Homo sapiens: one gene and its partners. The protein of the gene in region 5 interacts with the protein of the main gene of each other region in a pairwise test. Each region holds a gene or a part of one and is shown on either strand. Other genes may lie near its edges. The genes, in order: KLHL36, SYNCRIP, TIGAR, C1D, HIP1, FAM167A and TRIM23.

Region 1 (4,547 bases), on a different chromosome or scaffold from region 5:
AAGCCCGGTGTAGGCCAGCCTGGCTCTCTTTGTGGGTAACCAGGATAAATAGAGATCTCCACGTGTGTGACCTGTGAACTGAAAAGCCAGCCTGGAATGGAAGAGCGGGAGAGCCCGTCCTCTGAACTCAGAAGGAAATGCCAAGTCGGATCTGTCTGGCATCCTCCACAGGCTGTGAGAATGTGGCCTGCTCCTGTAGCATGGACAGAGAAGTTGCTGTTGGAATTGACTGGATGTGGAAATACCACAGGGAAATAAAGTGTCTCAATGACAAACGCATGTATGGCAACAAAAAGAAGATTTGAAAGGGAAGAAAAAAATAAAACCCACTGCTGTAGGACACATGTTAAGAAGCAACTTTTAAGAATTCAGAGCCTGGGCAGTTTAGGGAGACGTTGTCCCTGCAAATTATAAAAATCAGACAGGCGTGGTAGCGTGTGCCTGTAGTCCCAGTTACTCAGGAGGCTAAGGCGGAAGAATCACTTGAGCCCAGGAGGTCAAGGGCGACATAGTGAGACCTCGTCTCTACAAAAAAATTTTAAAATTAGCCAGGCATGGTGGCACACACCCGTAGTCCCAGCTACTCAGGAGGCTGAGGTGGGAGAATCACTTGAGCCCAGGAGGTCAAGGGTGCAGTGAGCCGAGATTGTGCCACTGCACTCCAGCCTGGGCAACAGAGTGAGACCCTGTCTCAAAAAAAAAAAAAAAAAAGTCGAACCACATAGCTGCTAATACCTAATAGCCCTCGGTCAGTTTTCTTCCTCCAACCACATTTCCCCTCTTCAGGCTAGTGCCCAGCCAGTTCTTCACCTCAGTCACCCTGGAATAGACCAGCTATCTATGTGATAGTTTTCAGTTACCTGTTTCTCCCTATGTTGAATTCATTTATTTATTTATTTAGAGACAGGGTTTCTTTTTGTCGTCCAGGCTGGAGTGCAGTGGCACAATCATGGCTCACTGCAGCCTCAAGCTCCTGGGCTTGAGCGATCCTCCTGCCTCAGCCTCCTGAGCAGCTGGGACTACAGGCGAATGCCACCACGCCCACCTAATTTTTAAATATTTTGTTAAGACAGGAATCTCGCTATGTTGCCCAGGTTGGTCTCGAACTTCCTGGCCTCAAGTGATTCTCCCGTCTCAGTCTCACAAAGCATTGAGATTACAGGCATGAGCCACCATGCCTGGCTTGAATTGTTGTGTTGTTTGGTTTTGGGTTTTTTTGGTTTGTTTTTTGTTTTTTCTTGTTTGTTTTGTTTTGTTTGTTTGTTTTTTGTTTTTTGAGACGGAGTTCTTGCTCTGTCTCCCAGGCTGGAGTGTAGTGGTGTGCTCTTGGCTCACTGCAACCTCCATCTCCTGGGTTCAAGCAATTCTCCTGCCTCAGCCTCCTGAGTAGCTAGGATTACAGGCACACGCCACCATGCCTGGCTAAATTTTGTATTTTTAGTAGAGACAGGGTTTCACCATGTTGGCCAGGCTGCTCTCAAACTCCAGTAGCCGGGCTGTCGTCCCAGCTACTCAGGAGGCTGAGGCAGGAGAATCACTTGAACCCGGGAGGCAGAGGTTGCAGTGAGCTGAGGTTGTGCCACTGCACTCCAGCCTGGGCGACAGAGCAAGGCTCTGTGTCAAAAAAAAAAAAAGAAAGAAAGAAAGAAAGAAGTTATATTAATAAGAGAAGGAAAAAAAAAACCACGATACACAGGCATACTCAGAAACACCTGTACTTCCTGCAGTGCCCTCTGATGCAGCATTTTATTTCCTGTTTTCTTCAGTTTCATTTTGTTGAAAATGCTGGTCAGGACCCACTGGGTTGGACCAGGGCCGAGCAGGCTGCTGCGCCGTTTCTAATGTGTCTTCTCTGTCCAGGTATACCGCTGGGCCGACCACTCAAGCACGGTGCTGCAGCGGCTGAACGAGCAGCGTCTCCGCGGGCTCTTCTGCGACGTCGTCCTGGTGGCCGATGAGCAGCGTGTGCCAGCCCATCGCAACCTGCTGGCCGTGTGCAGCGACTACTTCAACTCCATGTTCACCATCGGCATGCGGGAAGCTTTCCAGAAGGAGGTGGAGCTGATCGGCGCCTCCTACATTGGGCTCAAGGCCGTGGTGGACTTCCTGTACGGCGGGGAGCTGGTGCTGGATGGCGGCAACATTGACTACGTCCTGGAGACGGCTCACCTGCTGCAGATCTGGACGGTGGTAGACTTCTGCTGTGAGTACCTGGAGCAGGAGGTGAGCGAGGACAACTACCTGTACCTGCAGGAGCTGGCCTCCATCTACAGCCTCAAGCGGCTTGATGCCTTCATCGATGGCTTCATCCTGAACCACTTCGGCACGCTGTCCTTTACGCCCGACTTCCTGCAGAACGTCTCCATGCAGAAGCTGTGTGTCTACCTGAGCAGCAGCGAGGTGCAGCGGGAGTGTGAGCACGACCTCCTGCAGGCCGCCCTGCAGTGGCTGACGCAGCAGCCCGAGCGCGAGGCCCACGCCCGCCAGGTGCTGGAGAACATCCACTTCCCGCTCATCCCCAAGAACGACCTGCTGCACCGCGTCAAGCCGGCCGTGTGCTCGCTGCTGCCCAAGGAGGCCAACTGCGAGGGCTTCATCGAGGAGGCCGTGCGCTACCACAACAACCTGGCGGCCCAGCCCGTCATGCAGACCAAGCGCACGGCGCTGCGCACCAACCAGGAGCGCCTGCTGTTTGTGGGCGGCGAGGTCTCCGAGCGGTGTCTGGAGCTCAGTGACGACACCTGCTACCTGGACGCCAAGAGCGAGCAGTGGGTCAAAGAGACGCCGCTGCCCGCCCGGCGGAGCCACCACTGTGTCGCGGTGCTGGGGGGCTTCATCTTCATCGCCGGCGGCAGCTTCTCACGGGACAACGGAGGGGATGCGGCCTCCAATCTTCTTTATAGGTATGACCCCCGCTGTAAACAGTGGATCAAGGTGAGATTAAAGCCAGATTATTTCTTTTCTCTTGAGGACTCTCTCGGTTTCCTTAACCTAGCCTTGACTTTCCTTACCTCTCTGGGGCCTTGACAACTATCCTGCTTCTGAATGAGGTGTGATGATAAAGTGACGAGCAGAATACCCCGGGGCCTACATCCTGGACAGGGAGAGGGAGAGCCGACCCACCCCTTCGAGGGGTCCGTCATCGTTCAGAGCAGCACTGCCTGGCGGGGCTTTCTGTGCAGATGGAAGGGTCTGTCTGTACTTCCCGATACGGTAGCCACAGCCGCATGTGGCGACTGAGCACTTGAAATGTGGCCAGTGCGACTGAAGAAGTCAATTTTCAATTTTATTTCACTTTAACCGATTGACGTGTAAGTGTATGTGGCCGCACGAGGCGTGGCTACCCTATTGGACAGTAGCATGGGTCTAGATGTTTGATCCATGGTTCAACATCCCCAGGTCCTGGAGTCTCTGTGGGGCTCCTCTGGAAGCATTTTGGGAGATAGTTTAAGGAGACCACTAGTGCTCACGCCTGGCCCTTGGGCATGTATTGTGTCCTGATTCTGGGAAGAGCGTGGGCCTTGATGTCAGACCTGAGGTCTCATCCCAGCCTGGCTAAGTCATAGCTAGGAAATTTCAGATTCTTGTCCTCTCCACATTTTGGATTCCCCTTCTGGGAATACGTGGGGGACAGGGAGTGCAGTAGCTCATGTTGACTGGCAAGCCCCTGGCGTAGGGAAGGTGTCTCCTTTCTGCTGGGAGCGCTCTCCAGCCACTCGGTCCCCGGGACAGTCCATCTCAGCCTCTATACTCACACCTCAGCGTCGCGCCCAGCTCAGTGCTGTTCTCAGCTCAAAACCCAGTCAGAATGGACTCCAGCTGACCTTTTGATTTTACTCTCAGAAATCTGAGACTGCCCTCCAAGGTCGAAGTGTCACCACTGGAAAGGGTCCCTGGCTTTGGAGCCTCCTCCCGAAGCCTGGCAGCAGTGGCAGCAGTGTGTTTGCCTTGGATTCGTTTAAAAAAAGAAAAAAAAAAGTTGGCTCTTCTACTTTTTGTGTGTGTGTGTGTGAGACAGAGTTGTTCTGTCACCCAAGCTGGAGTGCAGTGGCACGATCTCGGCTAATTGCAACCTCTGCCTCCCAGGTTCAAACAATTCTGGCGCCTCAACCTACTGAGTAGCTGGAATTACAGGCGCCTGCCACCACGCCCGGCTAATTTTTGTATTTTCAGTAGAGACGGGGTTTCACCATGTTGGCCAGGCTGGTCTCGAACTCCGTGACCTCAGGTAATCCACCCACCTTGGCTTCCCAAAGTGCCAGGATTACAGGCGTGAGCCACCGCGCCCAGCCTCTTCTGTTTAATTTCCTGTCGAATGCCACGTCCTGCTCTGTTAACACGGAGTGGCAGAGCAGCACTAACTTTACAAATCTGATGTGGGGAGAGGAAAGATGAATTTTTATTTCATAAAGCCACTAGATCAGCAATTCTGACCCCTGTGACCACAGAGTTCCCATCCACGCGGCTAACGACATGACCAGAGAAGTTCGGGGGTTCAGAGCATCTCCATCCCCCTTTTGGGGACTCAGAGCGTCTCCATCCCACTT
Region 2 (4,547 bases), on a different chromosome or scaffold from region 5:
TAACCTAGAGAAACTATTCATTGCTGTATCAGTATTAAAAGACAATGCCAAATACCTAAAACTATTTCAACCTAAGGTATTCCTCCAGACACTCAAAAGAGAAACAGAGGTGCTTCAATCTTGTCTGATCTATAAATAATGCAAAGGAGGCATGAGGCACTTTCCCAACATTTAGTTATATATAACTAGAATGACACTTCAATTAAAAACTCACTTTGGATAGAACTGTAACAAGTAGAATCTCAAAATGTAACACAGTAGAGATAGCTTCCAAAGTATGCGCCCTTGAGGAACATACTTAGGAAAGGGGTATTCATGTCCGCAAATGAATACAAAGTGGCAAAAAACATCCAAAAAAACTTGAGATTTGTATTTTCTCTAGAATGTTTCAATTACTTCACTTTCTCTAAAATCTAGTTCTTTGTTGTGCTAAAGCAAATCTACCAGATCCTACCCACAGTAAAGCATCCTTTTAAAAAAAAAGTAAACAATGGCCAGGCGCAGTGGCTCATGCCTGTAATCCCAGCAATTTGGGAAGCCAAGGCAGTAAGACTGCTTGAGGCCAAGAGTTCAAGACTAGCCTGGACAACATAGTGAGACACCACCTCTACAAGTTTAAAAATTAGCCTAGCAAGGTGGTGCCCTCATAGTCCTAGCTGCTGAGGAAGCTGAGGCAGGAGGATCACGTAAGCCCGGGAGTTCAAGGTTAGTGAGCATTGATCATGACACTGCACTCCAGCAAGGGCAACAGAGTGACAACCTGTCTCCGAAAACAGTAATAATAATTAAAACCGTTTACTTAAGGCCGGGCGCGGTGGCTCACACCTGTAATCCCAGCACTTTGGGAAGCCAAGGCGGGTGAATCACAAGGTCAAGAGATCGAGACCATCCTGGCTAACACGGTGAAACCCTGTCTCTACTAAAAAAATACAAAAAAAATTAGCTGGGTGTGGTGGTGGGTGCCTGTAGTACCAGCTACTCAGGAGGCTGAGGCAGGAGAATGGCGTGAACCCGGGAGGCAGAGCTTGCAGTGAGCCGAGATTGCACCACTGCACTCCAGCCTGGGCAACAGAGTGAGACTCCATCTCAAAAACAAATAAATAAATAAATAAATAAATAAATAAAATAAACAATTTACTTAAAAGTAGGCTGGGTGTGGTGGCTCACACCTGTACTCCCAGCACTTTGGGAAGCCGAGGCCGAGACTGGGGTCAGGAGTTTGAGACCAGCCTGGCCAACAGGGTGAAACCCCATCTCTACTAAAAATACAAAAATCAGTAGGGCATGGTGGTGTGCACCTGTAATCCCAGCTACTCAGGGGGCTGAAACAGAAGAATCACTTGAACCCAGAAGGCAGAGGTTGCAGTGAGTTGAGATCACACCACTGCACCCCAGCCTGGGCAACAGAGGGAGACTCCGTTTCAAAAAAACTTACTAAAAAGTCAAAAAAAGCAAATGATGGTATGACCAATATATCCTACTGGCTGTATACCAATACCTACCATTGGAAATTTTTTTTTTCCCCCTTTTTGGTTTTTTGAGACAGGGTCTCTGTTGCCCAGGCTGGAGTGCAGTGGCATGATCACAGGTCATTGCAGCCTTGACCTCCTGGGACCACAGGTGCACGCTGCCTGGCTAATCTGTTACTTTTTGGTACAGATGGGGTCTATGTTTCCCAGGCTGGTTTCAATCAATCCTTGCACCTCAGCCTACCAAAGTGCTGGGACTACAGGTGTGAGCAACCACACCCTGCCAAAAGTATCTTTTAAAAGACAACAAAATGCAAAGTCTCCTATTAATTAGATAGTACAAAATAATTATGCCCCCAGAAAAGGATTCAAATCACAACAGAGAAACCCAGAAAGAAATGTAGAAAGTTTTAGGACAAGGGTTAATTCCTACGCCAATCAAAAAGAATGCTTATCTATAGAAGTTTCTCCATTATATTTAAAAACTATATTAATAAGACTATATTCTAAGCAACCTACAGCAATGCAATTTTATAATTTAACGTATTTATTAAACAAGGCAATTGTACAAATGGAAACATTTCCTAGTGTCTACTGGCACTCGAAATCACTGTTACTAATGGATTATAAACCATCTTCCTCTAATGATGTATCTTTACTGTAAAGTTTCTGGAAAACATCTATAAATAAGTTATAGTGGTCACCTACCATAATTGGTACATTTTGACGGCAAGAATTAGGTAACCTACGATGTCAGTTTAATGATTCTTTTTCATAATGTTAAAAAATGGATGACACCACTAGCTAAATTCTGCAGTGGTCCCTCAGCACATACGGGGGACTGATTCCAGGAACCCATACCAAAATCCATGAATGCTCAACTCTCTTAAATAGCATAGTGTTTGCACATAACCTACGAACATTCTCTCATACACTGGTGTGTTGTTTTTTTTTTTTATTGGGTTTTTTGGGAGTATCTTCAATCCTCAGCTAGCTGAAACTGTGAATGCAGGACCCACAGTAGAGAGAGCCCACTGTATTAGCTTTCTGTAGTTATGATACCTCATTGCTTACTGGATCATTCTGCATTTTCACTTACTGCTACTTTATTGCTACTTGGCAAAAATATTCTACTCTTTTATAGGAGATTAAAGGATTTTGGGACAGGCAAGGTGGCTCATGCCAGTAATCCTTGCACTTTGGGAAGCCGAGGTAGGAGGACTGCTTGAGACCATGAGTTCAAGACCAACCTGCCAGGCACAGTGGCTCATGCCTGTCATCCCAGCACTTTGGGAGGCCAAGGCGGGCAGATTACTTGAGGTCTGGAGTTCAAGACCGGCCTGGCCAACATAACCCCATCTCTACCAAATATACAAAAATTAGTCAGGTGTGGTGGTACGCGCCTATTATCCCAGCTACTCGGGTGGCTGAGGCAGGAGAATTGCCTGAGCCCAGGAGGCAGAGATTACAGTGAGCCAAGATCATGCCCACACACTCCAGCGTGGGTGACAGAGACTTTGTCTCAAAAAACAAATCATAAAAACAAACTAAAGGATTTCTAAGGTACCTCTTTCTAGAGCTCTAAAATGCCCCTCCCCTCAAATTGAACTGCTGAAACTAAAATTTTGACAACTCAAAGGTTACCAGTAAATCTGAATTCCCTCTAAAACACAAAGCACTCTTTTATGAAGAGAAAAATCAGACATGATTTGAAAATATCTAAATTCTCAAATTCTCTTTGTAAAGGCTTATATTCTTTCAAGTAACATAATTTTGTACTGTTTAACTTCCATCATACTCAATTATGCAAACCAGTGGGGAATATTCACACAACATAGAAAAGGAAGACTTGGCCGGGTGCAGTGGCACACGTCTGCAATCCCAGCACTTTGCGGGGCTGAGGCAGGCATATCTTCTGAGGTCAAGAGTTCATGACCAGCCTGGCCAACATGGTGAAACCCTGTCTCTACTAAAAATACAAAATTTAGCCAGGTGTGGTGATAAATGCCTGTAATCCCAGCTACCGGAGAGGCTGAGGCAGGAGAATCGCTTGAACCTGGGAGGCGGAGGTTGCAGTGAGCCAAGATCGCACCATGGCACTCCTGCTGTCTAGGTGACAGAGTGAGATTCTATCTCCCAAAAAAAAAAAAAAAAAAAAAAAGAAAAGGAAGACTTATGAGTTTTATTTTTCTCTTTAAGGCTTGCTTAAAGTGATAAACCTCATGGTAAAGGAAGGGGTAAAACTCAGGAGGGAGGGAAAAAAAAATGAGTCTGAAGATTTTAAGTTTGTCTGGAATTACCCACAGGATACGTAAGCCAGATAAAGCAAATTTAACAAACATGGCATAGTGAGCTATCTTGTACAAAAGTTCTCCCCAGTCGTGTTGCTTGATACATTCTATGGGTTTAAATTAGCCCCCAACTCTTCAACTATAAAATGCAGAAACCACTTCTGTCACAGAACTTAATAAAACTAGTTTAAAGGACTTACATAAACTATAATTTAAAATATTAAAATTTCTTTCTAGCCAGGCGTGGTGGCTCACGTCTAAAATCCCAGGACTTTGGGAGGCCGAAGCGAGTGGATCACCGGAGGTCAGGAGTTCGAGACCAGCCTGGCCAACATGGCGAAACCCCATCTCTACTAAAAATATAAAAATTAGCCTGAGCGTGGTGGCAGGCGCCTATAATCCTAGCTACTCGGGAGGCTGAGGCAGGAGAATCACTTGAACCTGAGGGGTGGAGGTTGCAGTGAGCCGAAATCATGCCACTTCAGCCTGGGCAAGAGAGAGAAACTTGGTCTCAAAAAAAAAAGAAAAGAAAAAAGAAAAATTTCCTTTTTAAAAAAGTTGGAAAGATTACCAGGTCCTTACCTAACATCTGGTATTTTTAAATCAAACATTGCCACTCACCATAAAATCTTTTGTTTCATCAACTAGAAATGTATCACAATGTCTTTTGTGAATTATTTAAGAAAAAGAGATGGCTCAGGTATGGCCAGGAAGTATGAGAGCTCTTACCACAGTTACTTTTCTTAATCTTTTCACATTCCTATAAATTTAAACAAACACACAAAAA
Region 3 (4,547 bases), on a different chromosome or scaffold from region 5:
CATTCCATTCAGATTCTCTTTCACTTGCTCATTCAGTCCAGCAATGAATAGACTGACTCTCACGTTTTTGTTCCTGCTGCCAGTAAGAGTAGTTTTGATCAATATATTTCTTTTAACAAAATTATTTGGCTGAAATGTTATTTGCATTATATTTTTTAGTAGGATTTTCCACCTGCAATTCACTTAAGATTGGTTCCTGATCTACACGTTTTAGTTTGGAGTAGTTTGAAATTCTTAGCTCTTCATTAAAGAAGACAATTGCAAATATTAGTTTAGAATAAATTGTTTTTACAGGTTGGATTATGAAGTGTGTTACAAGTTTCACATGATATTTTTAGAGTATCACCACACTTGATTGCTCATTTTTTTCCTCCTCTCAAAAACAGTATAATTTGGCTAATAAGGTTGTCCTTCTCTTTCTATTTTAGTGGAGAAACAAGATTTAACAAGGAGAAAATAATCCAAGGTTGGTATAATCCGATTGTTATTTTAGCTCTCACCCTTGTGTTAATAAGATGTGTGAGTTAAGCAGATTTGGTGGGGTGGGGTAGACTGGGGGCAGCACTCCATTGTGAATTGGGATTACAGAATCAAAGCATCATAACCACAGAAATATGATCAGGGCTGTTAGTAACCAGGAGGAATAAATCTCTCAAGTGAACTGGGTGTGAAGTACAGGTCTCCAAGTTATTCTTTATGTATGGCTTCAAAGTGGCTCTGTCAGCTGATTAATTATATTGGGTCTGGGTGTCTTAAAATATAAATGTCTGGATTTGAAATTATTTTATATTTGGAAACATGAAGTTTACTGACTGGTGTTAATGGTATTTTTTTCTGCTAAGATGGTTATTTTAATTTTAGTAGTAATAAAGGTTTAAAAAAAGAACTATTTTCACATGTGGTCGTTACTTTATTCTGAAGAGATTCTTTCTCCCTTTTTCTGTTAATTTGGACTCAGATCTTTTATTTGCCCTGTGATCCAGCTAGTCTGGCTTTTTAAGAATATCTTGAACTTTTGGCTAGACATGCTATTTCTGTGCTGTGATTATAAAAGCATTTAGTTTTATTTTTTTGGTTAGGGACTTCCGGGGTTTACAAAAACTGATTTTCATATTCCGTGTGCCTGACTCCCTTTTATGGACAATAACTGGTCTGATTCTCAAAGGAACCTTTGTTTTCAGACGAAATATGCCCCACCCAGGTTATCCTCTGGACTGAAGCCTCTTACCACCTGGCCTTTGGTATTGCTCATTTCTCTTTTTCCTAAGACATTGACAATGGAACGTCAAGAAAGTTTTTGTGTTCTTTTCCTGACCTTGTCAGTTGGATGCTTTAGTTCTTTAAGTTACAGCCTTTTGTGTATAAGCATTCAAGGCTCATGTATTTCTTTTTTTTTTTTTTTTTTTTTTGAGTCAGGGTCTCACTGTGCCGCCCAACCTGGAGTGCAGTGGTGCGAACTCGGCTCACTGCAACCTCCGCCTCCCAGGTTCAAGCGATTTCTCATGTCTCAGCCTCCTGAGTAGCTGGGATTACAGGCACGTGCCCCCATGCCCAGCTAATTTTTGTATTTTTGGTAGAGGTGGTGTTTTGCCATGTTGGCCAGGCTGGTCTTGAACTCCTGACCTCAGTTGATATGCCTGCCTTAGCATCCCAAAGTGCTGGAATTACAGGCCTGAGCCGCCGCACGCGGCCTCAAGGCTTATATATTCCTAAGTACTGTTTTTGTTTGCATGCCCGTAGTTTTGACACGTGGTAATGTGGTAAGCATTCAGCACCAAGTATTTTCAATTCCCATTGAGTGACTTCCATTATAAATGCTTTTGTGTTCTGTCAGTATGGTTTATTTGATGATACTTCTTTGAAATGTGTTAATTATGGTCAGTTTTTATAATTCTTCCATTGTATGCTTCAGAAAAATGTATAATCCGTCATTGTTGGGACTGGAATTATATATAAAATAATCAGCCTTCTTGATTTTGTTTTTCAAATCTTACACACTTTATTAGCTTTATAAATGCACTAGTTTGCCTGCATGTCCTAAATATCAATTTATGAGTGCAGTATTTTTAATTTCCTGCTGCAGTGGCCAGTTTGCCCTTTAATACTTGGAATTCTATCCATTTTTGGTTTCTATGTTCTGCTTTTGTATCGACTGAGGTTACTTTATTAGGCTTATACAAGTTTAAATGATTACATCTTCTGAGTAAATTGGATCACTGATTTTCTTATAGTGGTCCCCAAATCCTTAGTGAGACTTTTGTCATAAAGTCTTATTTTTCTGACAGTAATATAGCTACTTGAGCTGTTTTGGGGATGGAATTTCACTGGTATGTATTTTTCCATCTCATTCCTTTCACTCTTTGTGTATACTCATGTTTAAGTGTTATCTCATAAATAGTATGTAGCTAAATTTTGGCTCTTTTGAAAATATATATAAGTTGTCTTTTTTTTTTTTTGAGACAGAGTCTTGCTCTGTCACCCAGGGTGGAGTGCAATGGCGCGATCTCAGCTCACTGCAACCTCTGCCTCCCGGGTTCAAGCAATTCTCCTGCCCGAGACTCCCGAGTAGCTGGGATTACAGGTTCCCGGCACCACACCTGGCTCATTTTTTAAATTTTTATTTATTTATTTATTTTGAGACGGAGTCTCACTCTGTTGCCCAGGCTGGAGTGCAATGGCGTGATCTCGGCTCCTGCAACCTCCACCTCCCGGGTTCAAGCGATTCTCCTGTCTCAGCCTCCTGAGTAGCTGGGATTACAGGTGCACACTACCAGGCTCGGCTAGTTTTTGTATTTTTAGTAGAGACGGGGTTTTACCACATTGGTCAGGCTGGTCTCGAACTAACCTGGTGATCCACCCACCTCGGCCTCCCAAAGTGCTGGGATTGCAGGCGTTAGCCACCGCGCCTGGCCTAATTTTTGTATTTTTAGTAGAGACGGGGTTTCACCATGTTGGCCAGGCAGGTCTCAAACTCCTGACCTCAGGTGACCCATCTGCCTTGGCCTCCCAAAGTGTTGGGATTACAGGCGTGAGCCACCACGCTTGGCCTAGAATCTGTCTTTTAACTGGCAGTAGTGACTGTTTGCCTTTATTCTGGTCACTGATGTGTTTCGATTTTTTTTCTTTGTTTTTTTTTTCCCCTTCTTTTTATAGTCTTTCTTTTTTTAATCTTACCTGCTTTTACTTCTTAAGTTCTTGGTTTTTTTCCTGTTCCACACTTTCTTACTTTCCCCACTACCTTTCAAATGATGTACCATTTCCATTCTTTTCAAGGTTATCTTAAAATTCTTACCCTCATACCTGTCTTAGCCAAGGCTGCTGTAACAGAGTATCATGGACCCAGTGGCTTAAACAATACACAGTTCTAGAGACTGTGAATTCCAAGATCAGGGTGCCAGCAGATCCAGTGTCTGTGGAGGACCTGATTCCTGGTTTGCGGACTGCTGTCTTCTGGTTAATATCCTCACATGGCAGAGAGATAGATTGAGAACACTTATAAGGACACTAATCCTGTTCATGAGGGCTCCACCCTAGGATCTAATCACCTCCCAAAGGCCTGCCTCCTAATACGATCACATTGAGGGTTAGGATGTCAACATTTGAATTTTGGGGGGACACATTTACTCTGACAATACCTAATAAAGTATAATATTAATATCCCCTCTTCCAAAAAATACAAAGAACTTGTCTAGTCGCTTAGTCCTGTCTTTTTTTAATTGCTTGAGGTAGACATTATTATCTTCATTTGTTTAGATGGCATTTAAATTTATGAATATATTTGCAAGTTTCTCTGCTCCTCATTTGTTTTCGTCTCAGACCATTCCTGAAGTACGTTCTTTGAAAAGTCCTCTAGTGTGTGTAGAGCAGCTGGTGGTAAACATAGTGGCTTCAGTCGGTACACACTTGTAACTGATGATTCTCTCAGCACTTGGAAGATAGCATTCTGCAGTTTTGGTTCCATTTTTCCTGTTAAGAGATTTCTATCAGCTAAATGGTGTTCCATGGTAGGAAATATGTCTTTCTCTGTAACTTCCTTTAAACTCTTCAATTTTGATATTCTTTAGTTTCTCATAATATATCTAGGAGGAATTTTTTTTTTAATGTATCCTGCTTGATGTACATGTGTTTTCTTATTCTGTGAAATTCTTAGCTATTTTCTTTTCATATTCCTCTCCTTCATTTTTTCTGTTCTTTTATTTTTTTGAGACGGAGTTTCACTCTTGTTGCCCAGGCTGGAGTGCAGTGGTGTGATCTTGACTCACTGCAACCTCCGCCTCCTGGGCTCAAGTGATTCTCCTGCCTCAGCCTTCCAAGTAGCTGGGATTACAGGCGTGCTCCACCATGCCCAGCTAATTTTGTATTTTTAGTAGAGACAGGATTTCGCCATGTTGGCCAGTCTGACTTTGAACTCCTGACCTCGAGTGATCCACCCCCTTCAGCCTCCCAAAGTGCTGGGATTGCAGGCGTGAGCCACCATGCCCGGCCATTTTTTTTTTTTTATTCCTTTAGAGTTCCAATTAGATGCATGTTATAGACTGAATGTTTTT
Region 4 (4,547 bases), on a different chromosome or scaffold from region 5:
ATTTTCCTACGAGAAAATATTTCCTTTCTTCAGAAGAACATAGTAGAGATTTTTCCTGCAATTATTCCCTGTCCCTAAGCCCCAATAAACAAGCAGTTATTTATTGTTAGAACAGGTTAGGGTGAACACTGAAAGCATGGTAGTAAGTAAGAATAACTGCCCTCATTAAATCTGAACTGAGCCACTTGCCTTTTCCCTAACTAAAAAAATAAAGACAAGGGGGACTAAAAAATAAAGGCTCTTCTATTATGAGAAATTCCTCCTAATTCAATTGATTTCTACTAACACTTTATTATAGGCAGCTGCTGAGTATTTATTCCTTCCACAGAAAAAGCGCAGAAATTTCCCTCTGTCCCCTTAGCTACTCTGACCCCAGGATCAAGCAGTGACTCTACGATATCAGCAGCAAACTCTTGAATAGCACTGATTATGTGCCAGGCACTACTCTAAGCATTCCACATGCACTTGTTCATCTAAACCTCACAGATGAATAAACTGAGCCAAAAGAAGTTAAAGAACATGCCTAAAGTTGTACATGTTAAAATTTCCAAAGAAGAAAAGAACTCACCCAGCTCTGCTCCTCACCCTCCTCCGGGGTTCTATAGGTACTCCTTGCCCTTCCACATACTCCTTCTAAAACACTGGCTGCAGAGGTAGAGACAGACGGAGAGGGCATGAGAAAACTTGCTTCTCTTCACCACTCAGTAAGGTGTGGCTGAGACTGAGTACCTGGGTTGCGGGGATGCTGCCCAGTAACCCTAACAGATGTTACTGCCACTCAGTCCTTCCTCTCACTGGTTATACAGAAGCCAAAGTACCGATAGGAGAAAACAAGAGTGCATAGCATCACATACAGAACTGAAGTCATCAGCTACCTCTTTCCTTTAATTCTCCACTTCAGGGTGGCCAATCCAGGCAGAAACCTGGGAGGCACCCCAAATCCAATCAGTCCTGTCAATATGGCTCCCTTAATCTCCTTACACCACAAGCTTTCCTCTATTCTCACTGACTAGATTATTTCAACAGCCTTTGAGTAGTGTCCCTATTATCAATTTTTCTCCACTCCCAGTTTTAGAATATTACAAAATATGCTTTAAACAGTCTGGTCATGGTACTCCTCTGTTTAAAATTCTGCAACAGTTCCCTCCCACATGGAAGACAGTTCCAAACCCCTCAGCGTAGATGCAAGGCCCATTATGATGTGGCCCTTGCTTGTCTGCCTAACCTCATCTTTCATGGCTCCCCTCTTCCAATCCTAGAGCTGTGGCCATGATGGCAGTTTTCCAAATGTGCCGTGCTCTCTCACTCTCAACTTTCACCTGTGTGATTCTCTAAGCCTGAAATGCCCTTCCAACTCCACTTTTTTCAAACGCTGCTTATCTTTGGAGGTAAAAAATAGGTTCCAGTTCGGCCAGTGAAGACTTCTCTGCATGCTCTCCTTCTATGCTCTCTGTCTGGACAAATACAACAACTATAAGCTGTCATGTCACTTAAAACACTATCTCTTAATGTATTTTTATTTACTTGACTTCTCCTTTGACTACATGCTCCTTGAGGGGCTGTGTCATATTCATGTTGTATCCCCAGTGGCTGACACACAAGGTGACTATAACTCTCAATTTGCCCAAGACAGTTCCACCTTACGCCTGTTGTTTCAGCTTGCCATCAACTCAGCTCCTTTCTTTCTCAGAAGTCCCAGTTTGAACAAAAAATTATATGGCTACCCTAAACAATGCAAGTTCTCTGACCCTTACTACCGCTTCCCATCCCATTTAGCTGGAGAACAGAAGCATCAGAGGAGTTACCCTTTGCACCAGTCAGGTTTCAACTAGAGAAGCAGAACCAGTAGGAGATATATATTAAGAGAGTTATGGCAAGAAACTGGTTTACATAGGGCAGGCTATGAAGGGAGGAACTCATGCTGGAACTCTTGGCTACTAGCTGAAACTGCTGTCTACAAGTGGAATTTCTTCTTTTTTGGAAGGAAAACCTCAGCTCTGCTTCTAAAGCCTTTCAACTGATTGAATCAGGCCCACCCAGATGATCTAGAATAATCTCCCTTACTTAATTGATTATGGATTTTAATCATAGCTTCAAAATACTTTCACAGCAACACCTACATTCATGTTTGACTAAATATCTGGGGGCTACAGCCAAACCAAGTTGAAACATTAAAAAGACAATCACAGCCAGGCACCATGGCTCACATCTGTAATTCCAACACTTTGGGAGACTGACAGGAGGATCACTTGAGCCCAGGAGTTCAAGATCAACCTGGGAAACACAGACAGACCCATCTCTAAAAAAAAAAAAAATATTTTTAATTAGCTGGGCGTGATGGCATACACCAGTAGTCCTAGCTACTCAGGAGGCTGAGGTGAGAGAATCACTTGAGTCTAGGAGTTCGAGGCTGCAGTAAGTTATGATTACACTACTGCACTCCAGCCTGGGCAACAGAGCAAGGCCCACATCCTTTCTTTTTTTTTTAAAAAAAAAAAAAAGACTATTGCACTAAGATGCATTCCTAGCATCAAAAATATTGTTGCTCTGACAATACTTTCCCACAACAAGCTTATTTTGATTATCAGGTTCCCAAGTAACAGAACTAGACTTCAAATTCTAGCTAACAAATGTAGAAGAAATGACAACTTAAAAAAGAATCACGACTTTGCAACGCCTAATGAAATTGTAGGTTTAGTCAATGACCACCAACAGATCACTAAAAGTAGGTGAAATGCACATATTATGAACCTCCTGATGTGAGGCAATATAACATACACAGCACCATCTGCAAAGCATTCCCAACTCCCAAAAAAGCTGAATCTGAACAATTAAGCCTACAGAGCTAACTTCCATTTTATAGGAAATCCAAAGGATAGAGGAACAAATTAACACCACAAGAAAGCAAACAAATATGGAGTGAGAAATACAGTACTCTACAGGATAACTGACCAGGTTTCCATAACAAGTCAACAGCATGAAGCAAAAAAAAAAAAGTGGGGGAAGAAAGACAGAGGAAGAAGAGATTTAAGAGATGTAACAACCAAATGAAATACACAGACCTTGTTTGGATCTTGATTCAAATAAACCAAGTGGAAAAAGATAGTTCTGTGAGAAAGAAATCTGAACATGGACAAAGTACTAGATGACACCAACAAATTATTGATAATTCTGTCATCTATGATAATAGCAATACAGTTATATAAGAAAATTTCCCTGTCTTTTGAGGATGCACACTGAAGTATAGAGGGGTAAAATTATGTAACATTTTGAATTTGCTTAAAAAAAAAGTAGCCTCCACAAATTATTACAACTTTGAGAGCAAAGATAAGAACCTATGTACATTATTTCTATAGTGAAATTAGATGGCTAACTCACAAACTAGCTTTTAGAATACAACTCCGTTCATATATAGGAGAATAACTAAAGAGAAGGTGTCGTCTAGAATATTTAAGCAGCTCCATTACATCTCATTTCAATTCCAAATATAACTGGAGTGAGGGAGAGGAAGGTTACTGGGTGCTCACTACATCTGTGATAGTTGCTGAACATATAGTCTCAAATGAAGTTTGTATTACTAACATTTCCAACAAAAGGCTCACATTCTAGAGTGTCTATTTATTTCAAGAGTATCACAAAAATCCTTTTGAGACAGAGTCTTGCTGTCTCGCCCAAGCTGGAGTGCAGTGGCTCAATCTCAGCTCAACGCAACCTCTGCCTCCCAAGTTCAAGCAATTCTCCTGCCTTTTACAGGTGCGTGCCACCATGCCCAGCTAATTTTTGTATTTTTTTAGGAGAGACGGGGTTTCACCATGTTGGCCAGGCTGTCTCGAAATCCTGACCTTGTGATCTGCCCACCTCAGCCTCCCAAAGTGCTGAGATTACAGGTGTGAGCCATCGAGCCCAGCAAATTCCCTTCTTTAAAAAAAAAATCCTAATTTCTTGTATTTTTACCTGGCCCTTAAAAATGCAGGCAAAATAAACAAATAAACAAACACCCAAGACTAATGTCAAATAAAAAACTAAAAAAAGACATATGCAACACAAAGATTTTTTTAAAGCCTCTATGAATCAATTTAACAATAACAAAAAAAGTACACACAACCCAAAAGAAAAATAAACAAGAAAATCAACAGTTCACAAATAATCCAGATGACCAATAAGCATAAAGAAAGCTACTCAGCCTTACTGATAATTAAGGAAACATAAATCGCTAAAATATGATGCCATTTTCATCTGTCAAATAGGGAAAAATTAAAAAGATTAATAGTACTAAAATGGACAAAGGTGAGCTGAGAACAGCCTCCCATTCACTATTAGTCAGGGTATAAATTAGTTTAGCATTTTTGTGAGGTAATCTGCACTATGCTTCAAAATCACATATGTACACATGCTTTGACCTAGCAATTTTACTTCTCAAAGTATATTTTAGCGCAAGATAATGTTTAAGGACTTCCACTGCAATGATCTTTAAAACAGTAAACTTTAAAACAGAACAACCCACACATCCATTATTAGAACCTGGTTAAATAAATTATGATATGCCC
Region 5 (4,547 bases):
CATTCACCAGCACGCACACCCAGAAGAATAACAATGCTCCTCAATGATACTACTCCAAGTACCTCGCCGATGGCCTTGATCTTGCTCAGGCAGTTCCTCATGGCTGTGCTGTCGGCATTCTCAAGGCTTCCCTCTTCCTCCAGGGAGGCCAGGTAGGCGAGGGTTTCCCTGCCATACTGCTTACAGGCCTCGGTCAGTGCTGGAGATACAAGGCAATAGACACTTTTTTTTTGAGATGGAGTCTCGCTCTTGTTGCCCAGGCTGGAGTGCAGTGGCGCCATCTCGGCTCACTGCAAACTCCGCCTCCTGAGTTCAAGCGATTCTCCTGCCTCGGCCTCCCAAGTAGCTGGGATTACGGGTGCGCCACCATGCCCGGCTAATTTTTGTATTTTTAGTAGAGACGGGGTTTCGCCATGTTGGCCAGGCTGGTCTCGAACTCCTGACCTCAGGTGATCTGCCCACCTCGTCCTCCCAAAGTGTTACGGCGATTACAGGCGTGAACCATTGCATCTGGCCCATCGTTTTTGTATCTTTAGTAGAGATGGGGTTTTGCCATGTTGGCCAGGCTGTTCTTGAACTCCCGACCTCAAGTGATCTGCCCGCCTCAGCCTCCCAAAGTGCTGGAGTTACAGGCATGAGCCACTGCGCCCGGCCCAACAGAGACTTTTAAAGGCCCCCTGCTCCCCTGGTCCATGAACAGCCCCTCATGCCCCGGTACTCACAGTCGGCAGGCTCAGGTGGGGCTCTGAGGCAGGTGGTGGCACCATGAGCAATGGCGTCGCTGGTCAAGTGGGCCAGCAGGGTTATGGAATGGAGAAGTCCACTGATGTCTGCCAGGATTGGAAAGAGAAGTTTCTCAGGTCTGGTTGATGGTGACACTTTCATACCCTCTCCTCCCGTTTTATGAGTTGCCTACATGCCTTTCTTGTATGAGTTGCCTACATGCCTTTCTTGATGCAGAGGGACCTGTCACTATCCCCGCATTCAGGTGCTTCTGAACCCTGTCTGGCCATCACTAGCCGACAGAGACTGTCCTTGGCCATTCTTACCTTCTGGGCAGGCCAGATACTGGCTCCAGCTTTTCTCCAGTTGCTCGATGCAGCTGGAAATGGATGTGACCGTGGAGAGGAGGTGATCTGTGAGAGGGAACACAGGGCAAGGTCAGAGCAAGTTCTCATAGCTGGCTTCATCCTCGTTAATTAAGCACTGAATGGAGGAGCTTACCTAGTGGGTAAGCTTCCTGCCTAGACGTGAAGTTCATGAGTAATCACCTCTTGATTCAGACCATAGTTTTTTCCTTAGAGAAACAGAATTGTCTGCTCCTGGTGGGTGTTTTATCAGTGTGACCCACTGTCTAAAGCAGTAGCTATCACACCTGGGGGCTTTAGAAAATACTACTGCTGGGCCTGGCGTGGTGTCTCATGCCTGTAATTCCAGCACTTTGAGAGGCCAAGGTGGGAGTTCAGAAGTTTGGGACCATCCTGGGCAATAGAGTGAGACCTCGTCTCTACCAAAAATTAAAAAATTAGCCAAGGCCAGGCATGGTGGCTCATGCCTGTAATCCCAGCACTTTGGGAGGCCAAGGTGGGTGGATAGCCTGAGCCCAGGTCTTCAAGACCAGTCTGAGCAACAAACCGAAACCAAAAATTAGCTGGGCGTGGTGTTGCGTGCCTGTAGTCCCAGCTACTTGGGAGAATGAGTGGGGAGGATTGTGTGAGCCCAGGAAGCGGAGGTTGCAGTGAGCCACGGCACTGCACTCTAGCCTGAGCAACAGAGTAAGACCCTATCTCAAAAAGCGGGGGGGCGGGGGGGGGGAAGAAAATACTAAAATACTAGTGTATAGGCACTAATGCACAGAGTTTCCACATGTAACTGATCTAGGATGGGGCCTGGGCGCCCCTAAGGTAATGCTGACATGCTGCTGGGCTGAGAGCCCCTGAGCTAAGTCTCACATGAGATTCAACATCAACAGAGTCTCAGGCTGTAAGGACCTGGCCCCTGCCAGCTGGGCAATTGCAAGTGTACCTGCAGACCCAGCGCAGCTGATGAGAGGAGGTTCTTCAAGCTGGTTCAGGGCGTCTTGTATCACCTGCTCCGCAGCCTTCCTGGACCCCACCAGAAGCATTTTTCGTTGGTCTTTGGCAAGCTGGCACATAGATTCCTAAAAATGGTCCAGGGAGGTGAGAGTCTGCCCTAGACTCCATAATGAACCTGAGCAGGATGACCTGGCTGGGGCTCTTAGCATCTTAGCTCAAGTCATGGCCAATGAGGTCCAAGCCAGTAAGCCTGAGACAGAGAAAGGCGCTTTAACTGTGTGCACAGGATGTGCGGCTGCCCACGATGTGCGGCTGCCCACAGAGGCTGTGGGGATGGATCACTGCGCCCGCTTCTCATGGCTGGGAGGAGATGCCAAACTTCTCTTCTCATACAAAAAAGACAGCAGTTTGCTTTCCCTCATGGACTCTGCAGGCAATGCAGGGCCTGCTGGCATTACACCTACAGAATGTCTGCACAATCAGGCCAAGGCCCCAAACCCCTTCTCAGCAGCCCCGGGGTCCTCCCAGCCTCCGTGCATGCGCAGAGGCCCTCGGTGGGAATTCACAGGTGCTCGCTCGTGTCCATGTCCGTGACTTGCCTCTGTGCTGGCCAGTTTGAGCTGAGTGTCCTGCAGTTCTTTCCGAAGAGCAGATAATTCCTCCTCCCTATGAGCTGCGCCACTCACCAGGCTGTCCCGCTCCTTCTCTAGCTCGGCGAACTCGGCTGCCCAGTTTGCTTCTGACTGCAAAGGTGACCACAAGGAAAGAGGGAGACGCTGGTTGAGTTAAACAGTCCCTACTTCCCAGAGGTCCAACCCACCACCGGGTTGCAAGGACTGGGAAGGTGATGGCTCTTTAACCTGCCACTCTGATTCCCTCCCGGGGACACACTGATTGCAGTGGGGGCTGACTTGGCCAGGCCAAGGATGGTGGATGACAGCAACGCCAAAGCCAGGGGTGGGGCAAGAAAGGAGGCCGGGCATGAAGGCTCATGTCTGTAATCCCAGCACTTTAGGAGGCTGAGGTGGGAGGATCACTTGAGCCCTGGAGTTCGAGACCAGCCTGGGCAACATAGTGAAACCCCGTCTCTACCAAAGAAAATACAAAAACTAGCCAGGTGTAGGGGTGTGTGCCTGTAGTCCCAGTTACTCGGGGGGCTAAGTGGGGAGGATCACCTGAGCCCAGGGAGGTGGAGGCTGCAGTGAGCTGCGATCGCACCACTGCATTCCAACCTGAGTGACAGAAGAAGACTCTATCTCCAAAAAAAAAAAGGAGGTATTTACCTGGGCAGAAGTTTCCAGGCTGCCTTGCAGAACCTGAAGCTCCCGTTGGCTTGTGGCAAGTTCCTGCTTCAAGCTCTCTAGAACTTCCAGCTGTTCTTGAGTCTGAAAGAGAAGAAAAACAGAGGGACTCTGATCTGGGTGACAGTGACAAAGAATATAAAAATGTAAAAACGTCCCAAGCGATCAACAAGAGATCTGTAAACTCTACTGTATGTAAGTTACACCCCCCCAAAAAAGTGCAGGGTGTGGGAGGAGGAGGCAAGACCCCAGAGTGTACTGAAAATGTGGAATGTCAAGGAAGGATTTTTTATTATTTATTTATTTATTTATTTATTTATTTATTTTTGAGACGGAGTCTCGCTGTTGTTGCCCAGGCTGGAGTGCAGTGGTGCAGTCTCAGCTCACTGCAACCTCCACCTCCAAGGTTCAAGAGATTCTTGTGCCTCAGCCTCCCAAGCAGCTGGGACTACGGGCACACGCCATCACACCTGGCTAACTTTTGTATTTTTAGTAGAGATGGGGTTTCACCATATTGGCCAGGCTGGTCTCGAACTCCTGACTTGGTGATCCACACCCCCCTCAGCCTCCCAAAGTCCTGGGATTACTGCCGTCTCAAAAAACAAACAAACAAAACAAACAAACAAAAAAAAACGCTCATCCCTCTCTCTCTGCCACCCATGTGTTTTCCTTTCCTCAAACTCTCCACCAGCCTCATCCTTGGAAAGCCTTTGTTGATTAACCCCAGGCAACTTGGGTCCTTCCATTACTTCGTGTATGCACTGGTGACGGTGTTTTGCTGTTCTGTGTGGCCACCATGGTGTGCTCCCTGCTGTGTGATGCCAACCGACCCACAGAACTGCCCATGGAGCAGAAGGCCACAAAGCCCCCGCCACCAACTCAACAGCCCCCTCCCTCATTTCCCGAGTGCTCCTCGTCCCACTCACCTTCCGCTGGCCCTGGTCACTGATGCGCTCCAACGAATCCTCCAGCTCTTTTTTCTCTCGTTCCAAATCTACCTGGGCTTGTCTGGCCATGGACACCTGTTTGGTCACCTCTGCATTCTGCAAAAGAAGAACAGTGTCTTGAACCAGGAGATCCCAGGCTTAGAGGACATCCTCCTTCTAGGACAATCATACTCAGGCTGTGCGTGCCCTAGAGTCAGACACAGGAATCACTTTCCTACCCACAGCCGGAACAGAGCCATCACCTTCAGATGCTTGATGCTCAA
Region 6 (3,642 bases), on a different chromosome or scaffold from region 5:
GTGCCTCATCTTCTCCGAAGCCGACAGCACATGCACCCTCTCGTTACTAAAGACGGATATAATAGAATGGTGTGTTCTGAGAAGCACTCTCGGTATCAAGTGTTAAAACGCAAACAGGCTTCCAATTAATCAGTCAGATCCCTGCGTCCCTGAGCCCTGCCCCACTCCAAACCCCAGTGGATTCTCTCAGCCCCTGAGGCATTCCAGGCCTCATGGGGATTTAGTTTTCGGGATTCTGCAAAACAAACCAAGCAGGCCTCAGCCTACCCAGCTGACCCAAGAGCCACTGCCGGCTCTGGAAGGCAGCTGCCCTTGATGGCTGGCTCACCTGTGGCCAGAGTGGCCTGACTCGCAGGTGTCACCTGGGCCTCAGGGACGGGGTGGGGCAGGGGTTGAGAGCTGGGGTAGGGTTAGCTTCATGCCTGGTGCTGCTGAGAGGCTGTCGTGCCAGACACGGGTGATTCTCCCCTGGGGGGGTGGAAGGGGACAGGGCACCCAGCTCTGCCCCCCCACCCTGTTCTCAGGCTGAGTCACCATGCACAAAAGATGCTCCTATTGGGAATCTGCTTTGCCTATGAGCAGGAAAGTGACCGCGCTGCGGTCCCAGCTCAAACACAATGTGCCTTTACCTCACACCTGGCCCCGCCCTGACTTCTGAGCCAACTCCTCCTCTGAGCCTCCTCACCGAGCTTCTCCCCAGGCAGGACCCATCCCGCCGACTCTGGGCAGCTCCACAACTCCTCACCACTCGAGCACATTCCACACCGAGCCAGCTCCTCACAGCAGCGCCCTGCACAGCCACACCCCAGCCACTGTGCCCCATGGAGCCACCCGGCCAGCGCCCAGCACAAGAAGAGGCCGCTCACGTGCAGAAGAGTGGTCCCCGGAGTGGCAGGCAGCTGGGGTGGACAGCAGGGTGGGGAGGTTCCAGCACAGAGGGAGGGGCAGTCACACCCCAGGAGCCAGACTCCAGTACTGGGAGCGGTGTTGGGGGGAGGGGGGTACACCTTAACATGGGTTCAGGTTCTGCCAGAAAACACCTGCTTCCTTCATTAGTGTCTGCAATTAGGGGCTGATGACACCTGGGTCCCCCCAGCCACATACAAATGACGCCTGCCTTCAACTCACGGGAAGATTACAGATGTGCACTTGGGGGTTAGAGAGAGGGGAAGAAATACATGGTGGGGGTGGGGAGACAGACAGAGAGAGACAGAAAAAGACACAGAGAGACGGTGGCATCTCCTCTTTTCTGGGGATTCTTGGGGGCAGCCACTCACCAGTTCCTTCCTGAGCCAGGCTATAGCTTCATCGATGCTCTGAAAGCCTTCCAGCTTGCCAGTGGACAGGGGTCTGGCACCTTGGCTGGCACTCCTGGCAGAAGGGGGGTGCTGCCCAGCCTCTCTCAGGGGGAGCAAGGGCTCCTGCCCCCCACGCTCCCCCTCCTCCAAGCTCGCCTGTGGCTCCGCAGCCGGCCTCGGGAAGGGCCAGGTATGCTCCTCCAGCCTGGCCTGCCATTCCAGGTAGGAGGGCCTGCGGGTCTCCAGCCTCAGTTTCTCGGTGAGGGCCTTCAGGCTCCGGAGGTGGTCATCGGGTGGTGCGGCTGCTCCCGCCCCCTCTTCTGCACCCACTTCTTCCACGTGGATCTGGGGCACAGACATTCTACAGTCTGCCCTGGCAGCCGGACATGCGAGGGCACGGGGGGCGCAGGGGGAGGCTTGGTGGGTGGCACAGTTGGGTCCCGCTCTGGGATGGCCTCATCCAGGTGCCCGAGGGCATTTCCGGGACAGGAGCCGGCCTCAGAGGCTGGGTGGCAGGGGAGCTGAGAGGGACCGCGCAGTGAGCCGCACAGGGCGCCCTCCTGGAGGCTCGGGTCTATGATCCGTCCTGGAAGCCTGTGGGTGCCATGCTCCACAGAAGGCAGGAACAGACAGCGTCGCAGGAATCTCGGGGCAGCCTGTGCCAAGGTCTATCTGTCCTGAACGCACTCGAAGACCAGACTGGCAGGAAGAAGGCCCAGAGCTCTCTCTTCTCGGGAAGGGCAGGTGGCTGGAGACCCTGTGGGAGGGATGAGAACCGCATCAGTCCCGATCCCTGCCCTGCCACTCAGAGGCGGGCACGTCCACTCCACAGGAGGGGAAACTGAGGCTCAGAGTGGACTGGTGGCTGCGCTTCTCATGGCTAGTCCGGGACGGAAGTGAGATCATTTTAATGCCTTAATTCAATGCAGAGAAGTTAATGAGCAATTGAAAAATTGTGCAGTGTTTTACCATTTATATAAAAACGACTCCGCCTCTACTATCTTATTTAATGCCCCCAGCAAGTCTGCAGGGATTTGTTTTTATTCTCATTTCACACACGAGGAACCCACATATCCTAGAAGTTAAATGACTCACCGAGATCTCCCAGCAATAAGTTGTGGGGACAAGCTCAGGCTGTCTGAATCTGAGGCCACAGGTCTTTCCTCTCTGTGGCAACAGCCGGGGGGTCCCCAGAGCCAGCCAGCAGGGAAACCGCACCCCACACAGGCTAAGGTGGGTCTGCTCCGTCCAGGTGCCACTGCCCCCTCACCACCTCCACCCACCACAGGTCCTGTCCTCCAGCAGCCGTTTCTACATCCAGGTCTTACTCTACGCTCCTAGCTTCTTCCTCCAAGAACAACACCTTACCTCACCTCTTCAGAGACAGAAGCAAATAAACCTGCAGCTGTGGAGGGAAGAAGGCGGTGGCACCTGGGCTGGATGGCTAAACAAGCAGGCTGTGACTCATTGTTCTAGAACGAGGCTTCTCGTGTTCACCTAAGTGCCCGCATGGCAGCACCTGTTTGGTAAAGACTTCAGCTATGGGATCTGATGTGGCCTCCCCATCTCCAGAGAGGAGGCATAAGCCCCAGCTCCTACCCCATAACATCAGACACAGGGTAGAAATCTAACTCCCAGTAAGAAGAGACCGCAGCCTCCAGACTCTGTGGTCCGAGGTCCATGGGGTGGGCAGTGGACATGGGTGAATCAGAGTAGGAGACATCTGATTTGGACCCAGGTGGTAAGCCCTGGATTTTAAGGGTGTGTTTTAAAAAAAAAAATCTGTGCTGGGGGACATGCAGCTATAAAAAAGAATGAATTGATATGGAATGATGTTTGAGATAAAGCTTAAATGAAGAAAAGCAAGATTCTCAGCAGCCTGGAGAGTAGGCCACCCTTGGGGTGAAAAAGGAGAAAGAAAGAGGGATTGTTACTGACTTGTAAATGCCTAAAAACATCCCGGCCAAAAAAAAAAAAAAAAAAAAAGGAAGGGAATAGCCATAGTCATGATTACTTGTTTGGAGTGAGGGGAACTGGGCAGAAGGGAGGTGAGGATAGGAGGGAAAAGAATTAAGATGAGGGTGGCAAAAGCTGAACAGGCAGCAGGACCACCTCGCGGTGTCCTGGGATTCCTCTCCGACATGGCACGCAGACGCTTAAGAAAGGAGAGCAGAACTTTCCAGTCCAGACGTTTTCCTCAGCCCCAGCCTGTGGTGGGGATGTGAATGGAGGACGTCCTGCTGCCCGACCTCTGCCGCCCTAGGCTACGAGCCTGCCCTAGCAAGGGGCATCCATGGAGAATGAGAAGGAATAGTCCACCCCAACTGGTAAGCAGAGAAACCCG
Region 7 (4,547 bases), on a different chromosome or scaffold from region 5:
ATTAACTTACTTAGATATGGTTATGGTTTATTGCCTGTCTTCTTGCTAGAATGCTAATTTCACAAGATTATGGCTTTTTGCTTATTGTGTTCACTGATATATTTTAAATACATGGCATATGTTAGCTACTCAATACATATTTGCTAAATGAATAAATATTCAGCATCCAGTATCATGCCAAGAACTTTAGATGATGCATAATTTGTTTAGAGTGGATGGATGATTAAATTATGTTCTCAGAAGTGAAGATCAATTTGTGATGTTCCATCCATTCCTCTGTTCAATTTTCTCTGTAGTGGGAACTTTAAAGAACATTGGTTAGTATTCTGTAGTTATAAAATAGAACAAAACTAATAGGTCCATATGAAAAATGAATCCAAGACCTTGATTTTTTTGCATTAACATAGATAATACTGTATCATTAAAAATTACCAGTTGATATGGTTTGGCTCCGTGTCCTCACCCAAATCTCATCTCGAATTGTAATCCCCACATGTCAAGGGAGGGACATGATTGGATTATTGGGGCAGTTTCCCTCATGCTGTTCTCATGATAGTGATTAATCATGACATCTGATGGTTTTAAAGTGTGGCACCTCTCCTTTGCTCTCTCTTTCTCTCCTGCCGTCCTGTAAACAAGGTGCTTGCTTCCCCTTCGCCTTCCCCCATGATTGTCTAACTTTCCTGAAGCCTCCCCAGCCATGCAAACCTGTAAATTAAGCCCCTTTCCTTTATAAATTACCCAGTCTCAGGTAGTATCTGTAAAGCAGTGTGAAAATGGACTAATATACCAGTCATTTTGGCACAACACTTCAGAAACTCTAAAATACTTAAATATTTCAGTAACTATGAACAAACTTTTTCATAAAATAAATATGAAAATACTTTTAAGTGTTCAAGTAAATATGATTTAGGACATGACTCCACTCTGATTTTGCTATGTAGCTTCATTATCCGCCATGAGTTAAACATGTATTTATTAAGCTCTTTCTATCTAGATGCAAAGAATTTAGTGACACAAAGATGAACAAGATGCATCAAAGATGAACAAGGTCAGCATCTAAAACACATAGGCATATTGTGTCATTCAAGGTCAAATCGGAAGACACAAATCACACCATTACTTGAATAGAAAGAACTTAAAATAAAAACTGTTAACTAGGTGTAGTTATTAACTAGGTAGCTAAAAGGTTAAAAGGAACTCTGAGGTATTAAGGAGGTAGCAATTGTATGAAATAACATAGCTACCACTTCCAGTGCTAAAGGAATAAAAGGAAGAAGTTAGAATTATTAAAACTTAGAAACTTGCAGGAGTGGCTCATGGAGCTGAAACTCAAACCTCCGAGAAGGGTGGTCTCCTCACATGAGTAACTATGCCCCCTCTTGACAGTACCTAACATGGGCCCAGCTGGCAACACAATTATGAGGTCTGTAGAGTTCTAGCCCTAGTATCACAAAATAGAGGATAGAAGAGTAGGTTTGGAGCTGAAAATCAACTTAATAAATAGCATACATATCAACTGTTACAATTCAGTGTGGTAAGGACTAAATGATAACCCAAGACTGATGAGGCTATAGACTGGCCACTCTCATGTAAGTGTAATCACATATTTAAGAGAAAAAGCTCTACAATGGTACAAGGCTTAGCCTACAATGATTTGAAATCAACACAATTATTAGCAATATATCAGTGAAGATAACACAGACTGCAGCTTTTCTGAAATTCCTAGGGCAATAGTTATTCTTATACCTCACACTTATGAAAACAGATCCAAAACACAAATGGGTAAAGCTGACATTTGTGTTAGAATAACTGAATCTCATTTATTTAAAAAAGTAAGTCATCTGCAAACTGGGTAACAAATTTCTTATGGTATCTCAACCATCACAAAACATACGTTTGCTCTAACAGTGAAGAACCACTGAATTATAGCAGACGTAGGCAGTACATGGTAGAGAGGCACTCAAAAAAAGACCAACAAATAGAAAGCTTCAAAGAAAGGCAAATATTTAAGCTGGACCTTGAAGGAGAAGGAAGATTTCCACTATTAGAAAAGAGAGATATATGCACTCCAAGCAGAAAAAAAAAAAAAACTACATATATGCTTGGCAAAGAAGAGTAAAAGGATTTGGCATAACTGAAGAATGGCAAGAAGTTAGAAGGCCTCAAGAACCCATGGCTTATGGTGGGAAAGGCACGTGAACGACACTGATAATTCCATACTAGTGAAATAATTCAAGGTTGCAGACCATTTCCTAAGCACAAAGTTACTGCATACAGCAGACACAAAATATTAATAAAACACACTAATGTATACCTCTGGTAATTATCTACTTAAACTTACAACTAAGTCCCTAACCACATTTAAACTACCTACCTGCTGCAAAGTCTTTTCACAGTGGAGGCAGGCTGCAGAAACCTCTGACAACAAAATAGTCATATCTTCTTGTTGCTGCCTGAGCCAAATCAATTTTTCACGAACATGAGCATCAACAACACTTAGAGCCATTTCTTCTTGACGACACAGAGTTTCATGTAGATCATAAAAATAAGCTCGAATACATGACCGGGCATTCTCTGCAGTCCCTGGTACCTAAGAAAATGAAAATAAATTTTAAGCAACTGTAATGTTAATAAAGATTTTACCTGTGAAATATTTAAAATTTCAGCCTAGGCAACATGGCAAAACTCTGTCTCTACAAAAAATGGAAAAAATTAGCCAGCCGTGGTGGCATGTGCCTGTAGTCCCAGCTACTCAGGAGGCTGAGGCGGGAGGATTGATTGAGCCCCAGAAGTCAAGGCTGCAGTGAGTGGTGATCACAACACTGCATGCCAGCCTGGGTGACCGAGCGAGACATTGTTTAAATACCATCTATATTAAATTCCAAAATATAAATCTCCATGCTAGATCTTTCCCCTAATGCACAGACATTGGAAATTCAACTGTTTATAAATGACATCTCAAGCAAAATGGAATGCCTAATCTCCAGTCTCCCCTATTCCCAAACCTAATTGCCTCTGTCTTGGTAAATGGCAACTCCATCCTTCAGGATGTTGAAGCAAAAACAACCGGAGTCATCATTATCAGCTCTCTTTCATAGCCCACTAGTCCCTCAGCAAATTCTGCTGACTTCAAAATACACCCAAAATCTGATCATGCCTCATCACCTCTAAGTTACCTATCCAATCAATATTAACAATTAATCACTAAGACCTATCTATTCTACTTATTTAAAATCTCAAATCCATTGACTTGTGTCCACTCTCACTACCCTAGTGTATTATAGGCCATAAACATCTCTAGTATTTTAACTAGAAAACTTTAACAACATCCTAATAGGTCTGCCTGCTTCCAATTTTGTTGCTCCTCCAATTCATTTTCTACATTTAAAACAACCTTTCTTGAGGAAAATCTGATTATATCATTCCTAAGTCAATTCTTCAATGGCTCATCACTGTCCTTAAACTAAGTTCTGAACTCTTTAACATGGCTGACAAGATCCTGCATGATTTGGCTTTGAACTCTCCATATCCTCTTTTCTTGTCATGTCCCATTCAATACTTAAAGCTCTAACTACAGTGAGCTTCTTTAAGTCTCTACAATATGTACAATCCTCACTTACAAACATTTTAACATATTGTTCCCTTCTTGGGACAACTCATTCCCCGTTCTGCTCTTTTCCCTGACTGAAATTCTTCAAATCTCAGTTTAAACACCATTTCTTCTATAAGGACTTCTCTGACCTCCATAAATCATTGTCCCTGTTTTGTGATGCCAAAGCACCCTGTACTTCTCCTCCATAAAATAGTTACCATATTTCAAACTCTCTCTTTTCCATGATGAATGAGTTCCTGAAAGACAGGGACTTTTAAAAAACTTTCTAATGATTGGTGCAATACTGGCAAATTGTAATTGCCCATTAATTACTTAGTAGAAGGTGAAAATATGAAAAATAAAAAAGAATGAGAAAGTGAAGAAGAAAAAAAATCCATACATGTTCTGTGTGAGCCATTCCAATTCCATCTTCCACGATTTGTTCTCCTCCTTCAATGTGCTGCACAATTCCAACTAATTTTCTGGAATAATCTGAGATTTCCTCTGTGAAGGTCCGTATGCAGTGAGCCATATCTAAAATTGATGCTCGGATCTGATTAGCTTCTGGTTCCAATACTGAATGCTATAAAATGTACCATAATTAGAGAAAAGAACTCATAGTATTGACTAATAATATAAAAAACTATTTAAATCCCTATTAATACAAAAAAGCATCAGCCACAAGTGACTTTTATGACACAGAAAAATACTAATTTACTTTCACTCCTTTATAAGAAAACTGTACTGCAAAGAAGTAATTTAAAATTTGGAAGTCCGTTTATTGCTAAACAAAAAACCAAGAGACTATCTCTAAAATCATATCCTAAGTAAGAGCTAACAGACATAAATATTGTCAAAACAATCTGGTGCATTATGAAAACATGCAAGCAAACAGAATGTTTGTTTCCTGCTCGAAAGCTATTTTTTTGTGAAGAATCATGATGCCTCTTTG

Evidence for each region.
Region 1: the proteins of HIP1 (region 5) and KLHL36 interact in binary tests that used the Homo sapiens proteins (3 or more experiments, as listed by UniProt).
Region 2: the proteins of HIP1 (region 5) and SYNCRIP interact in binary tests that used the Homo sapiens proteins (3 or more experiments, as listed by UniProt).
Region 3: the proteins of HIP1 (region 5) and TIGAR interact in binary tests that used the Homo sapiens proteins (3 or more experiments, as listed by UniProt).
Region 4: the proteins of HIP1 (region 5) and C1D interact in binary tests that used the Homo sapiens proteins (3 or more experiments, as listed by UniProt).
Region 6: the proteins of HIP1 (region 5) and FAM167A interact in binary tests that used the Homo sapiens proteins (3 or more experiments, as listed by UniProt).
Region 7: the proteins of HIP1 (region 5) and TRIM23 interact in binary tests that used the Homo sapiens proteins (3 or more experiments, as listed by UniProt).

Annotation. Positions count from the first base shown.
Region 1 is NC_000016.10:84,655,011-84,659,557, forward strand, and holds part of KLHL36 (kelch-like protein 36), read left to right. Parts: intron 1-1,860; coding exon 1,861-2,934; intron 2,935-4,547.
Region 2 is NC_000006.12:85,632,168-85,636,714, forward strand, and holds part of SYNCRIP (heterogeneous nuclear ribonucleoprotein Q), read right to left. Parts: intron 1-4,547. UniProt on the Homo sapiens protein: Heterogenous nuclear ribonucleoprotein (hnRNP) implicated in mRNA processing mechanisms. Component of the CRD-mediated complex that promotes MYC mRNA stability.
Region 3 is NC_000012.12:4,330,852-4,335,398, forward strand, and holds part of TIGAR (fructose-2,6-bisphosphatase TIGAR), read left to right. Parts: intron 1-428; coding exon 429-466; intron 467-4,547.
Region 4 is NC_000002.12:68,052,493-68,057,039, forward strand, and holds part of C1D (nuclear nucleic acid-binding protein C1D), read right to left. Parts: intron 646-4,547; exon of another isoform or gene 569-645; intron 1-568. UniProt on the Homo sapiens protein: Plays a role in the recruitment of the RNA exosome complex to pre-rRNA to mediate the 3'-5' end processing of the 5.8S rRNA; this function may include MPHOSPH6.
Region 5 is NC_000007.14:75,553,391-75,557,937, forward strand, and holds part of HIP1 (huntingtin-interacting protein 1), read right to left. Parts: intron 4,381-4,547; coding exon 4,264-4,380; intron 3,422-4,263; coding exon 3,320-3,421; intron 2,780-3,319; coding exon 2,636-2,779; intron 2,162-2,635; coding exon 2,026-2,161; intron 1,137-2,025; coding exon 1,050-1,136; intron 831-1,049; coding exon 723-830; intron 200-722; coding exon 63-199; intron 1-62. UniProt on the Homo sapiens protein: Plays a role in clathrin-mediated endocytosis and trafficking. Involved in regulating AMPA receptor trafficking in the central nervous system in an NMDA-dependent manner. Regulates presynaptic nerve terminal activity.
Region 6 is NC_000008.11:11,442,754-11,446,395, forward strand, and holds part of FAM167A (protein FAM167A), read right to left. Parts: intron 3,263-3,642; exon of another isoform or gene 2,394-3,262; intron 2,056-2,393; 5' UTR 1,659-2,055; coding exon 1,278-1,658; intron 1-1,277.
Region 7 is NC_000005.10:65,606,866-65,611,412, forward strand, and holds part of TRIM23 (E3 ubiquitin-protein ligase TRIM23), read right to left. Parts: intron 4,179-4,547; coding exon 3,996-4,178; intron 2,594-3,995; coding exon 2,378-2,593; intron 1-2,377.